Linked DNA regions of Homo sapiens. The protein of the gene in region 2 purifies or fractionates together with the protein of the main gene of each other region. This does not show direct contact. Each region holds a gene or a part of one and is shown on either strand. Other genes may lie near its edges.

Region 1 (3,500 bases), on a different chromosome or scaffold from region 2:
AGGCGTACGCCACCAGGCCCGGCTAATTTTTGTATTTTTAGTAGAGATGGGGTTTCACCATGTCGGCCAGGCTGCTCTCGAGCTCCTGACCTTGTGATCCACCCGCCTCAGCCTCCCAAAGTGCTAGGATTACAGGCCCTCATGCCTGGCCCTCTAATACCGTTGAAGAAACCTCCTCCACAGCTGCCGCTGGTATTCTCTTCCATCCAGTGTCCCTGTCTCTGGTCTTGCCAAAAACTACTGCTGTCAGTGATTTTCCCTAAAAGCAAACTTGGCTGTGTCATTCTATCAATTACCACTAGTCAGAAGCCCTGGCAGCCACAGGATCAAATCATTCTGCCCCTGTGACAGTGAAGGCCCTGGAGTTCTAGCTCCTCCCTGCCCGTCTACCGCATGGCCCAGCAGGCAGACCCACATTCATTCTCATTCCCCATAGCCACGCATATTCACCCGGGCTCTAAGCCACATTGGCCTGAGTCTGGAGTGCCTTGCTCCAGCCCTCGGCCCTGGCAAGGACCATTCTTCAAGAATAAGCCTCTTCTATTTAGGAGGCTGGGGTGCATTTATGTCCTCCCGTGGACACCTTCTTCTTGGCTGTGGCTGCTGACTCAGTCCCCTTTGTGCTGCCAGCACGTCTCACCAAGCCTATGGGCAATGCAGAAAAAGACATCTGATTTGGGGGGAAAGGGAAACGCTGAAGAACTGGGAGTACAGCTATTAGAGAATAAAAGGCTGAGTTCTAGAATAAAAAACAACTCCTATAACCACAACAAGATCTCATCTCACACCCATTAGGATCGCTATGATCAAAAAAACAAAAACAACTAGGCTGGGCACGGTGGCTCACACCTGTAATCCCAGCACTTTGGGAGGCAGGCAGATCGCGAGGTCAGGAGTTCAAGACCAGTCTGGCCAATATGGTGAAACCCTGTCTCTACTAAAAATACAAAACTTAGCTGGGCGTGGTGGTGCGCACCTGTAGTCCCAGCTACTCGGGAGGCTGAGGCAGGAGAATCGCTTAAACCCAGGACGTGAACGTTGCAGTGAGCCGAGATTGCGCCACTGCACTCTAGCCTGGGCAACAGAGCAAGACACCATCTCAAAACAAAACAAAACAAAACAAAACTATACACATAGATGGGGAAGAGAAAAAGAGATGGAGAAAAATGTGATAATGACCTGCTTCAGACAGGCTGGGATGGCCGGGCACAGTAGCTCATGTCTGTAATCCCAACACTTTGGGAGGCGGAGGCAGAGGCAGGCGGATCACCTAAGGTCAGGAGACTTTGAGACCAGCCTGGCCAACATGGTGGAACCTCATCTCTACTAGAAATACAAAAATTGGCCAGGCGTGGTGGCAGGCACCTGTAATCCCAGCTATGAGGGAGGCTGAGGCAGGAGAATCACTTAAATCCAGGAGGCAGACAGAGGTTACAGTGAGCCAAGATCACGCCATTGCACCATTGCACTCTAGCCTGGGCGAAAGAGAAAGACTCCATCTCAAAAAACAAAAGTCTGAGTTTAAAGTGCCTTCAAACATCCAGCCAGCCAGTCAGCCAGGCAGAGAAGGATTTCTCAGCTTCAGCATAATTGCTATTTTGAGCAGGGTAATTCTTTGCTATAGGGGGCTGTCCTGTGTACTGTAAGCTGGGAAGAAGCATTCCTGGCCTTGATCTTACAGCTGCCAGTAGCACTCCTCCACCTGTGTCCAACGAAAATCCCTACAGACATTGCCAAATGGCCCCTGGCCACTCTCAGCACTTTTTTTCAACATAGTACTAAAAGTACTAGAAAGTGCAGGCAGACAAGAAAAAAAGGCATCCAAACTGGAAAGAAAGAAGTAAAATTATCCCTGCTTACAAATGACATATCTTATATATAGAAAACCCAAAAGAGAGCCAGGCACAGTGGCTCATGCCTATAATCCCAGAACTTTGGGAGGCTGAGGCGGGTGGACCACCTGAGGTCAGGAGTTTGAGACCAGCCTAGCCAACATGGTGAAACCCCATCTCTACTAAAAGTACAAAAAAATTGGCCGGGCGCAGTGGCTTACACCTGTAATCCCAGAACTTTGGGAGGCTGAGGCGGGTGGACCACCTGAGGTCAGGAGTTCGAGACCAGCCTAGCCAACATGGTGAAACCCCATCTGTACTAAAAGTACAAAAAAATTGGCCGGGCACAGTGGCTCACACCTGTAATCCCAGCACTATGGGAAGCCGAGGCAGGCAGATCACCTGAGGTCAGGAGTTCGAGACCAGCCTGACCAACATGGAGAAACCCCATCTCTAGTAAAAATACAAAATTCCAGGCGTGGTGGCACATGCCTGTAATCCCAGCTACTCGGGAGGCTGAGACAGAACTGCTTGAACCCAGGAGACGGAGGTTGCAGTGAGTTGAGATTGCGCCACTGCACTCCAGCCTGGGCAATAAGAGCGAACCTCCATGTCAAAAAAAAAAAAAAAAAAAATTAGCCAGGCATGATGGCACATGCCTGTAATCCCAGGCACTCGGGAGGCTGAGGCAGGAGAATTGCTTGAACCCAGGAGGCAGAGGCTGCAGTAAGCCGAGATCGCGCTGCTGCACTCTAGCCTGGGCAACAGAGCAAGACTCCATCTCAAAAAATAAAAAATAAAATAAAAAATAAAGAAGTTCCTCAAAAAATTAAAAATAAAACTACCATATGGTCCAGCAATATCTGCTCTGGGTATATACCCAAAGGGAATGAAATCATCAGCTCATAGGGATGTCTGCACTCCCATGTTAACTGCAGCATTATTCACAACAGTCAAGATACGGAAACAACCTAAGCATCTGTCAAAGGATGAATGGTACATATACACAACAGGATATTATTCAGCCTTTAAAGAAGAGGAGATCTGGCCAGGTGCAGTGGCTCATGCCTGTAATCCCAGCACTTTGGGAGGCTGAGACAGGTGGATTGCTTGAGCTCAGGAGTTCAAGACCAGTCTGGGCAACACTGGAAGACCCCATCTCTACAAAATTAGCCAGGTGTGGTGGCGCACACCTGCAGTCTCAGTTACTCCAGAGGTTGAGGTGGGAGGATCTCTTGAGCCCTGGAGGTGGAGTCTGCAGTGAGCCATGATCGCACCACTGCATTCCAGCCTAGGCCACAGAGCAAGACCCTGTCTCAAAATAAATAAATAAAAGTAAAAACATGGATAAACCTGGAAGACATTATGCTAAGTAAACCAGACACAAAGAAAATACCACATGGGCCAGGAGTAGTGGCTCACACCTGTAATCCCAGCACTTCAAGAGGCCAAGGCGGGCAGATCACTTCAGGTCAGGAGTTCAAGACCAGCCTGGCCACCATGGCGAAACCCCATCTCTACAAAAAATACAAAAATTAGCTGGGTGTGGTGGCACATGCCCGTAGTCCCAGCTACTCGGGAGGCTGAGACATGAGAATTGCTTGGACCTAGGAGGCGGAGGTTGCAGTGAGCCAAGATCACGCCACTGCACTCTAGCCTGGGCAACAG
Region 2 (3,500 bases):
GGGAGGCGGAGGTTGCAGTGAGCTGAGGTTGGGCCACTGCCCTCCACCCTGGGTGACAGAGACTCAGTCTCAAAAAAAAAAAAAAAAAAAAAAGAAAAGAAAACCAAAGTACAATAAATATCTTTAACATACTTACTGAAAGCAAAAAAAACCTGCATGCTCAATTTATTTGCTTAGAAAGATTATGAAAACTGGCTGGGCGTGGTGGCTCACACCTGTAATCCCAGCACTTTGGGAGGCTGAGGCGGGCGGATCACGAGGTCAGGAGATCGAGACCATCCTGGCTAACACGGTGAAACCCCGTCTCTACTAAAAATACAAAAAATTAGCCAGGCGAGGTGGCAGGCGCCTAGTCCCAGCTACTTGGGAGGCTGAGGTAGGAGAATGGCGTGAACCCGGGAGGCAGAGCTTGCAATGAGCCGAGATCGCACCACTGCACTCCAGCCTGGGCGACAGAGACTCCGCCTCAAAAAAAAAAAGAAAGATTATGAAAACTAAGCAACAAAAAAAATCATATCATGCAACCTGAGGAAGCCCCTAAGATTCAAAATTTACTAAAATGAATGTCTGTGCACTATGAAGCAAATCCTAAGCATATTAATGGATATAGTTTTTCCTAAGCATACATAATGGATACAGGAAACAATGTGCAGATTGCATATCACTCATAGCAAAAATAGGTCATCATTATAAAGGCTATGAAACTAGAATGTTATTTGGTGAATACATCTTTATATAACATGTTGTCATTGCAAAATAGTAAACACCATCCTATTTGCTTCCCTAATCAGTATGCTAAACAGAAATTTAAGACTTCCATTAAGTTCTTAAATTACAGAAGCATTAAAACCTTGTTTTCCCTAAAAGTTAACGAAGAATTATAAGACAAAGAACACACCCAAACCAAGAGAATGAGGAAGGGAATGATAAAATCGGAAGGTAGCCCACCTGCATGAGAATTATTTTAAATATTAACCACTCATCAGAGTGCCTTGAAGTGATGATTCTGTGCCTCTAGATAATTCTAGAGCCACATGAAAGATTTCATTTCACCTTCCCTCTCTTTCCCCACCATAACACTCACCATACTCAGTTCCCGTGTTCTCTTCCCGATTTCCCTTTCCACCTGGTGCAGTTCCAAGCTCAACTGCTCACTTGAGATCATCCCAGGCCATTTTGGAGGTGGCGGTGGTGGGGGCTGTGACTGGCCTGCCAGGGTGTTTGCCTCCCTCTGCAACACCAGCCTGTTACTAACAGCCTAGTGCATAAAGCCAAGCACACAGAAAACTCAACACACTTCACACCATGCACAGAATAACCAGGCTCAATTCCAGACCACAGCCTTGAGTAGCTTATCACCCAGCCATTTGCAACAAAATAATGCAACTGTAAGGTGCTGTTCTCTTTGAGTACCATTCAAACAAAAAAATAACAAAATAGGGACATTTAAATTTAGTAAACAGTAATTTCATCTTATGTATAAATTGCTCCTTGTATTTTCTGATTTGAAAGAGAAGTTGGCTACGCATGGTGGCTTGTGCCTTTAATTCTAGCACTTTGGGAAGCTGAGGTGGGAGGATCACTTGAGGCCAGGAATTTGAGATCCACCTGGGCAATATATCAAGACCTCGCCTCTACAAAAAATAAAAAATAAAAAAACCAAAAAATTAGCCTGGGATGGTGGTGTGGGCCCGTAGTCCTAGCTACTAGGGAGGATCACTTGAGCCCAGGAGTTTAAGATTACAGCGAGCTGCTATGATCATGCCACTGCACTCCATGCACTCCAGCCTGGGCAACAGAGTGAGACTTTGTCTCTCAAAAAAAAAAAAAAAAAAGGAAATGGAAGAAAAACAAGTCAACTACAGATGTGCATCTTTCCCCCTCTGTTTTTAATGGTAATTTTCTCTGAAGTAAATCCTATAACTTATTTCAATGAAACCTCAGTAATGGCAAGGACTTTTAACTGTACTGAGTTAAATATGTGGCAAGTTTCTAAATAATACTGATAGTCTTTTTGGACAGAAAATGCTCCTGGAAACTTTAAAACAAAAAATCATGCATGTGGTGGGGGGAAAGCGGAGGGATAGCATTAGGAGATATACCTAATGTAAATGACGAGTTAATGGGTGCAGCACACCAACATGGCACATGTATACCACATGTAACAAACCTGCACGTTGTGCACATGTACCCTAGAACTTAAAGTATATAAAACAAACAAACAAACAAACAAAAAACCATGCATTTGAAGATATGGAGTAATGCCTTATTGGGTTGAAGGTCTGAATCTTTAAAAAGTTAATGAACGAAAGATTGCCATAAGCAAACATGGCATTCTGTTTCTATGACAGGAATCGGCAAGACGTTCTGAATCAATGTAAATAAGCAATGGCGAAAGCAGACAAAATCTAAGTATTACATAGATTTTTAAAATTCCTAAATCTAATTGCGTACATAGGGGCACAAGCCAGCTATATGTTCCAAAAACAATCTCCTACTGGTCTTCCTAAAAAGAAAGTCTACTAAGAAAGTCTGTCTTATAACTTTTTTTCCCCCCTAAAGTGATGGCTTACTTATTATTAAAGATTATGGTAGAAAGACAGACTAATGTTCTAACAGTACCATTTTTTCCTCCAGAAAGGACAATATATTTATCATTAGAATGTCTTCAGTTTTCCATATTCAAAGAATATGTTCCAACGTAAAGGATGATGTATAAACAAAACCTAGTCTTCCTTATGTGGCACTTAAAAGATTTTAAAAATTCCTTTTTTTTTTTTTTTTGAGACAGAGTCTCACTCTGTCACTCAGGCTGGAGTGCAGTGGCACCATCAGGGCTCACTGCAGCCTCAACCTCCCTGGGCTCAGGTGATCCTCCTGCCTTCAGCCTCCTGAGTAGCTGAGACTACAGGCGTGCACTACCATGCCTGGCCAATTTTTGCACTTTTTGTAGTGAAGGGATTTTGCCATGTTGCCCAGGCTGGTCTCAAACTCCTGAGCTCAAGCAATCCATCTGCTCTGGCCTCCCAAAGTGCTGGGATTACAAGCATGAACCACCACGTCCAGCCAGATTTTAAAAATTCTTTAGTTTTGTTTTTCTAAGTGTCAGGCAGCATGATGGAAAGAACACTGAATCTGGAGTATGAAGACTTGGGTTCGTGTTTCAACTTCTGAGAAACTCATATACTTCAATCAAAAAAGGAGGACAATACCACCTGCCTAAAATATCAGGGATATTCTAAGGGTCAAATAAGATAAGTGGTAGTGATTTTTAAATGGTACAGAACTACGTAAATGAAAAGTGTTATTATTCTTATTACACCGGAACTATGTTTTACTTTTTAAGTCAAAGTTCTGTTTTTTTTTTTGAGACGGAGTCTCACACTGTAGCCTGGGCTGGAGTGCAATGGCGCAATCTTGGCTCACTGCAACCTCTGCTTCCTGGGTTCACACGATTCTCCTGCCTCAGCCTCCTGATTAGCTGGGATTACAGGTGCACA
Region 3 (3,999 bases), on a different chromosome or scaffold from region 2:
TGTGGGTTTCCACAGTCCTCAGCTCTCTCATCCCGTCTGTCCATCTCACCTCTCCGAAATTTCCCCAGAATATACACCAAAGGCCCTGCAGGACCCAGCAGGAGAACCCTTGCTTTTGGCCTACAACCTCAAACCTTTGTCAGCACAACCAACAGCAACTTTAAGCAGGCATTCTAAGGGAAGTCCCATTCCTTCCTCAGCTCTTTAGAAGGAGAATACAAAGAGATTTTTGTGTTTGCATTTATCATGATTCAGTAGAGGCTTTAAGTGGGTTACTACTGGGAAGCACTCTACCAAAAATGCAGAACAGCTTTGAAAACTGTATCCAGAAGCTTGACCTACAGAGACAATTTTGTTTGCAAGAGAATGTGCCATGGGTCTCACTCCTTTCTCTGGCTGCTGCTTTTGCACTCACAGTTGATTTCCAAACTGGCTGCTTAGACACAATGGGGCTGTGAAGCACTCCTATCCCCACCCCCAGCCAAGACATTCTCTCGCTCACCTTTTTAAGCGTCACAAAATCATTCTCAGCAGCTGTGCGCTTATTGATTTCATCCTCATACCTATTGGGACACAGATGTTACAGCAGTTAGATTAGTTCCCCTTCATTTTTTTTCTTTTCCTTTTATACTGGATTCACCCCAAATGCCCCATTCTCTGGGAATATTACACACTTTTTAAATATCTAAATTGAAACTAAGATTTCCAAACTAAAGATATATTTTTATAAACTAACTCTCAAACATACAAAAGACAAAAATGATCTCTAAAGTCTCACTGTCTTCCTCACAAATAATCAACAAAGATACATATGCCTCTCCCCATTACCACCACAAATGCAACTGGGAGATGAATGGCTTTCCAGGGAGTGATCAAATGGCTCAGTGCAATGTTTATCTCCACTCAGCGTTTCACTCTGCCACCTACTTCTTCTTATAATCCTCCACAAGATCCTGCATGTTATTCAGCTCTGAATTCTGTGATGTTCTTTCTGCAGTGAGCCCATCCAGATATCTCTTGAGGCTGTCGATATACCCCTGGAAGATGGGCTCCAGGTTGATGGGGCGGGTGCCAACATTCATTTGTTGTAGCAGCTCCCATTTGGTCTGTAACACCTGGTTCTGCTGCTCCAAGAACCGCACCTGCCATGACCAGAAGGAGAGCACATGAGTTCTAGATCATCCTTCACACCAAGCAAGCCACGCTGGCCAGGGGCAGCTCAGGTGCTGCTTCAGGACCTCGAGAAGTGTCTGAGGCTGGATGCCGAGTCATGACTGGCAGAGCTTCTGAGCTCCCTGCTTTCGCCCCTGGAAAGTCCCACAGACTCCTAATGCTACATCCGGCTCTCTCCACGCAGAGGAGACTCTTTGCTGCTTCACTGCTCACTGGTTTGTTTGCAGCTGCTCCCAATACTCTAGACCATTTCCCTCCCCGCATCCTGGTTGAATTTCCAGCCAAGATCCCATAAATTCTGGGGAAAACCGAAAGCAGCCATCTGCTGGCACTGCTCGCAAGGGTGCTGAGTATGAGAGTCCCAGAGGGCAGGGCTCCTCAGCCTGATTTTTAAGAGCCTTGTAAATCCCTGCCTATTTCAAGGCAGATAAACCAAGACAGGTTCGTCTGCCTTGAAATAGGAGAAAAGCCAGTAACACTCCGAAGTGACACCAATAAAGACTTTATGGATCACAAAACTGAGAACGCTTCTCTTGAAGGCAGGAATTTCCTGCATTCCCAAGCAGATATTTCAGGTTCAGCTTCCCAGAGTTTAGTAATCACTGCTAAGGAAGGAAACACTATCTCAGAAGACGATGGCTTCCAAAACCTGCTGCTCCAGTGGCCTGTCCCAAGGATCAGTTCAATACTTGCCTATATCCATTTTTTATGGTTTTCAGAATTTTCCATAAATATTATTTATATGGACTGTAACAATAAGGTCAAAGGGACAAATGCTTCCTAAGTGCAGGCTGTTATGGGAAATGTAACCCACAAAGCTGGCGTCTTTTCCATCTGGAAACCGCAAATGACCCAGGCTACTGCGGTACACCACTGGCTCCTAAGAAATACAAATCTGTGCCATTTTCTTTTTGGTTGGCTCTGGAAGTGAAGTGGCCTGAGCATCAGTGGGAGCCGTCTTCTCCAGAGTCACCTTGTCAATGAAGGAGGCAAATTTGTTGTTGAGAGTTTTGATCTGCTCACGCTCTTGGGCCTTCACATTCTGGATCTCTGGGTCAACTTTCACGTTGAGAGGCTGCAGGAGGCTCTGGTTGACAGAGACTTCGTGGATGCCACCAGGGTATCCTCCAGGCCCAAAGCCACCAGGACCCCCTAAACCTCCAACACCACCAGGGCCCCCAAAACCTCCAAAGCGGCCTCCACCAAAGCCGCCTCCACCGAAACCACCACCACTGAAGCCGCTGCCACCTCCAAAGCTGCTGCCGCCTCCAAAACCACCTCCTCTGCCACCAAATCCACCAGCGGCGCCAAAGCCACCACCTCCTCCAGCCACACTAATGGAGATGCTCTTGGTCCCTCCAAGGCCAACAAGACTCCGACTGCCAAAGCCGCCTCCACCGAAGCCCCCGCCACCACCACCATGGCGGCTCAAGCAGGAGAAGCTGGAAGTTGATCTCCGGCTTCCACCAGACACCACAGCTGAGCCGCTGCTGAAGCCCCGGAATCCTCCTCCACCTCCTCCTCTTCCTCGAGATTTGCAAGAGATCTGACAACTCATGATGCCTTTGTCCAGGGAGGAAAGTCACAGGCTCTTGAGAAGAGTCAAGGCTGGAGACTCAACTGTGCTGCTGGGAGGCTTTCAGGGTCCCCTTATATACCTGCCAACTAGGTGTTGTGTACATGGGTGTGGATCCACTTATACGTGGGTTTGGTCTGCCTGGGAGCTATTCCTGGTGCGTGATTATCAAGCTAATAGCCATTAAAAATCTACTAATCAGCTCCATCCCAGAACTTGCTTTGATTGCAAACTTCTGTTTATCTGGGCATCTGTCATGCAATTTGATTTTTGTAAAATCATCAAAAGAGGAGATCAGGGTTTGGGTTTCTCAATCTGGAAAAGGACCTTCTGCAGAATGCTGCTCCCTGTTCTGGACCTGCCCAAGGGAAGTCAGCTACCACCCATGCTTGTGCAGGCTCACCACCCCAGTTCAACAATGAAAGGGATGGTGGGTTTAGAGACTGCAAGAGCCCCTCAATGCCAGCCTTGTAGTTCTCTTGTAGTTTCCCTCTTTCCCAGAAAGAGCCCCAACTAGTGCAGGGGAGACTGCAAAGGTCTTAAATGACCTTAAATGCTAATTGGAAATCGACCTCCTCTTACAGAAAGTAATTGGCCTCGGATACTGCAAAAGAGGTGTCGATTTTCAAAATATCTTGGCTCTTTTCTTCCCATGCCACACCAAAAATACACAATAACTAGGCACCGAATAGAGATTTTTTATAACCATGATGGTTTGTATAACCATCAACTGTCCCTTGTCTACATGAACACCCAGAGGTTGAGAGGTATGAGAAAAGTTTCGCTGTTTCTGGACCTGTGTGATGCGGGACACCAAGTGAAAGTTTGCAAACCAAGATCCAAGTGTATATTGATTCAGTCAGTCAGTAATCACGTATTGCCTGGTGATCCTGGGAAGTGATTAGGAAGTCAGGCTCTTCAATGACATCCACAGATGCTTGAGGATAAGAAGACCATCCAGCCTGCACAGAGCACTCACACTTAAACTCAACCACTTCCTCTGTCCATGTGGCCAACTATGTGGGAGAGGTTCTTGGAGTAATAAAACTGAATTTAGTCAGAAATTCTGGGTTTGAGTCCCAGTTTTGCTATTTATTGGCTGTGAGGCCTTGAATGAAACCCTGAGGCTCTGTGGTCCCAGCTATAAAATGGGAAATTCGTATGAAGTGTTTTGAAAACCACCGTGCACAATAAAATGTCAGTATCATTATTGTTTGGGGTGAGACAAAGATAATTCCTTTTCCTTTCCC
Region 4 (3,500 bases), on a different chromosome or scaffold from region 2:
CTTCTGCACCCTGAGAAGAAAATAAAAAGATGGCCTCAAAATTAAAAAGAATATACACTAACTCAAAAAACAGCCTTGGACTGCTAGAGTATAAGACTGGCAGAACATACTAAGAATTCCCACTGTGATTTTAAAAACAGATCTAGGTTTTAAACAAAGTGAGCAAGGTACTTCACATCCTGATTTAAACATATATGGCTTGTTTGCTCATACAACCTGAGTTTTGCTTTCTTGTCTAGTAATGTCAATCGCAAAAGCAATGTGTAACCTCTTTAAAGAACATAAATTAGCAAATATACAACTGTCAAAGTAGAAGCAATGCTAGACCAGGAAGAATATTCCTCAATGGGAAAGACTTGAGATACTGTTATTTTCCTAGAATGTGTTGAAACCTATGTTAGTCTAGGAGGTACCAAGAGGACAATCCCTATTCATGGGCTCATATGATTCTCTGTCCAGCACAAAGGTACTGAGTGAAACTTCTCCTATTTTGGCAGCAACAAGAAGAAAGGGTCTTTGATGAATAATATTCTCCACACATGTAGTCCTTCTTTAGCCTTTCCTATTATCCTTGAAACAGATTTAGAATTCTTATTCTCATATGGACAAATGGAAAATGTTTCAAAAATGTTAAAAAAATGTAGACCAAGAAGATTTCAGAGAGTGTATTTCACACCCTACATCACTTTGTAAAACCCTGAGTTCTGAAAACATACAGAAGAAAAATCAACCCAAAACAATTTTTTAAAAATTGGATGGGATATCAGAGATCCTCACAGAGTGGCAGGTGCTGGTGAGTGATTTGAAAATCTAAAAGACTTACAAGATACCCTGGGGATCACACCGGTAAAGATAATCACTTAAATTTCTGCATCCAATGAAATAAATTGTTTTTCTTTTAAAACACAATGGTTTGAGAGCCATTAGGAACATGACCTATGGAATGGTATATGTGTATATGGGAGGAGCACATACAGGGAGTTAACCTCTCATCCAGTTAATTTATAATTCAGCTGCCATGATTAGCTGCCATGGCAGTTGTGCTATATGTAGTTTTAGCGTGTTTTTAATCTTACTCAATATTGTTTTACTAGTATCTATAACAGACTAAACACAAAGCATAAAGGGCATTACAGACACGGAATTAAATATATAACAGTATTAAAAACTTCTGTAGCTAGTCTTCAGGAAAATCCCTTAACTTCTTGGATTCAGTTCACCCGGACGAAGCTATCTTAGGGTCTATCAGGGTACCTTCAGCTTCCCAAAATCCAAGCCAAACAGAAAACAAAATGATTAATATTCAATTTCGATCTCCTTTTATTGGGATTAAAATATTCTTTACCATGTATTATTTGTAGGTAGAAGTGCTTACAAGTCAGCCTGAAAACTTTACTTTGATAAAAGAAATCTTTTGCCCCAAAGCAGTTTTTCTTTTCTTTTTTTTTTTTTAAAAAACGGAATCTTGCTCTGTCCCCCAGGCTGGAGTGCAATGTCTCAGTTCACTGCAAACTCCACCTCCCAGGTTCAAACGATTCTCCTGCCTCAGCCTCCTGAGTAGCCGGAATTACAGGAGTGCGACCACACTCAGATATTTTTGTAATTTTAGTAGAGACGGGTTTCACCATGTTGGCCAGGCTGGTCTTGAACTCCTGACCTCAGGAGATCCGCCTGCCTCAGCCTCCCAAAGTACTGGGATTACAGGTGTGGGCCACCACGCCCAGCTGCAAAGCACTTTTAATATATTGTTAATACATAAGATAGTTAAATTTTAATCTGCATTTCGAAATACATACCTTTGGTATAAAAATATAAATTATTTTTAAATTGAGAAATCAGCTTTTCTTTCCATAATCAGAGTTGATCATTTATTAAATAAGAAATTAAAGTATCTTTATTGCAGAATGTTTATAATGACAATGTCAAAAATATTTCTGCTAGCTGGGTGTGGTGGCTCACACCTGTAATCCCAGTACTTTGGGAGGCTGACACAGGTGGATCACCTAAGGTCAGGAGTTTCAAGACCAGCCTGGCCAACATGGTGAAACCCCGTCTCTACTAAAAATACAAAAATTAGCCGGGCGTGGTGGTGGATGCCTGTAATCCCAGCTATTAGGGAGACTGAGGCAGAGGAATCACTTGAACCTGGATGGTGGAAGTTGCAGTGAACCAAGATCGCGCCACTGCACTCCAGCCTGGGCAAGAGGGAGACCCCATCTTAAAAAAAAAAAAAATTCTGTTTAAAAGTCACTTCCTGCTATTGTACAAAAATTCCAAAGTCATGTCAATTCATAAGGGGCTGATAGATAATTTATTGTGCAACAGTACTATGTGCCAGCACTTTGATACCCAACCACAATTTCCTCTCACCTTCTCTCCTTCAACCACATCAAACTCTACAGTTTCTCCATCTCCTACACTGCGCAGATATTTCCGTGGGTTATTCTTCTTGATGGCAGTCTGGAAAGAGAACAGAAAATTTTATTCGATGTATATTTCAATATTGGCCACAGATTTCACTGCTTTCAAGTACACCAGAGTGAACTTGAAGAAACTGTTGACCGATTCTTATTTTTCCACCATTCTCCCACTAAGTTGGATCTCCAACACAACAACAAGAAAGCACTATAAAACTATATTCCACATTACTTCCTTGATTTGTGCTATTCATCTTGACAGGTGGATTAAACAGAACATGTTTTTTCTATAACTGCAGTGTGTGCAGTGACTACACACTACTGTTACAGGCTGATCACCTGATCATATCAGATGTATTAATTACCTCAAACCATTAAGCTTCAGAGATTCTCTGAATCTCCGGAGGAGGAAAGGAGGCAGTGATAAAGAAAAACAAATTAAAATGCCAAGGGGATAAATATTTCTGACGAGTAAACAAAATTATCTCAAGAATCAGAACGTATTAGTAATAATCTGGCCTCCCCCCTCTCCTCCCATTTTGCAGATGAGTTAACACGAGGCTAACAGTTAAAGTGATTTATCTGAAGTCACAACCGTAACAGCCCCAGGGATGATGGGGGAAGTGGAGGAGGGGGAATTCATATCCCTGTACTCTACCTATATGATATTTATTCAACTTTTCTCCCATCACACAATTCATGTCAACAAATCCTACATTCCCTGATAATACATTAAAAGGTTAGTGAAGATGCTATTCTTCATTAAACATCTACACCTAAATATCTGCTTATGAATAGGTGCTGCTCTCTCTTGTTCCATCAATGAAGGCAGAAAATAATTCCTGCCATGCATTTCCATTTCTTTGGCTGGTATCTCTAAACAGTTAAAGGGGCTTGCGTTTCTATGGAACTAGGTCAACCTTATTTTATAAAGCGATTAAGCATGTGTAATCCAGCCCGTCCCCTAACTCTGAGTAGGAGGGAAAAGAAATAGTGAGCCAACAGAGCAGAGACCTCACCCATAGAGGAAAAAAGGCAGTTCAGGACAGGCACGCAGCATGAACATTCAGCCATTCCAAAAAC

What was found.
Region 1: the proteins of RC3H1 (region 2) and DHX30 purify together in Homo sapiens (affinity purification with mass spectrometry, with the first as the bait; 2 studies listed by BioGRID). This does not show direct contact.
Region 3: the proteins of RC3H1 (region 2) and KRT2 purify together in Homo sapiens (affinity purification with mass spectrometry, with the first as the bait; 2 studies listed by BioGRID). This does not show direct contact.
Region 4: the proteins of RC3H1 (region 2) and YBX3 purify together in Homo sapiens (affinity purification with mass spectrometry, with the first as the bait; 3 studies listed by BioGRID). This does not show direct contact.

The regions. Positions count from the first base shown.
Region 1 is NC_000003.12:47,834,138-47,837,637, reverse strand, and holds part of DHX30 (ATP-dependent RNA helicase DHX30), read right to left. Parts: intron 1-3,500.
Region 2 is NC_000001.11:173,942,358-173,945,857, forward strand, and holds part of RC3H1 (roquin-1), read right to left. Parts: intron 1,259-3,500; coding exon 1,085-1,258; intron 1-1,084. UniProt on the Homo sapiens protein: Post-transcriptional repressor of mRNAs containing a conserved stem loop motif, called constitutive decay element (CDE), which is often located in the 3'-UTR, as in HMGXB3, ICOS, IER3, NFKBID, NFKBIZ, PPP1R10, TNF, TNFRSF4 and in many more mRNAs.
Region 3 is NC_000012.12:52,649,412-52,653,410, forward strand, and holds the start of KRT2 (keratin, type II cytoskeletal 2 epidermal), read right to left. Parts: upstream 2,801-3,999; 5' UTR 2,732-2,800; coding exon 2,147-2,731; intron 1,143-2,146; coding exon 928-1,142; intron 564-927; coding exon 503-563; intron 1-502.
Region 4 is NC_000012.12:10,713,324-10,716,823, forward strand, and holds part of YBX3 (Y-box-binding protein 3), read right to left. Parts: intron 2,461-3,500; coding exon 2,371-2,460; intron 11-2,370; coding exon 1-10. UniProt on the Homo sapiens protein: Binds to the GM-CSF promoter. Seems to act as a repressor. Also binds to full-length mRNA and to short RNA sequences containing the consensus site 5'-UCCAUCA-3'. May have a role in translation repression.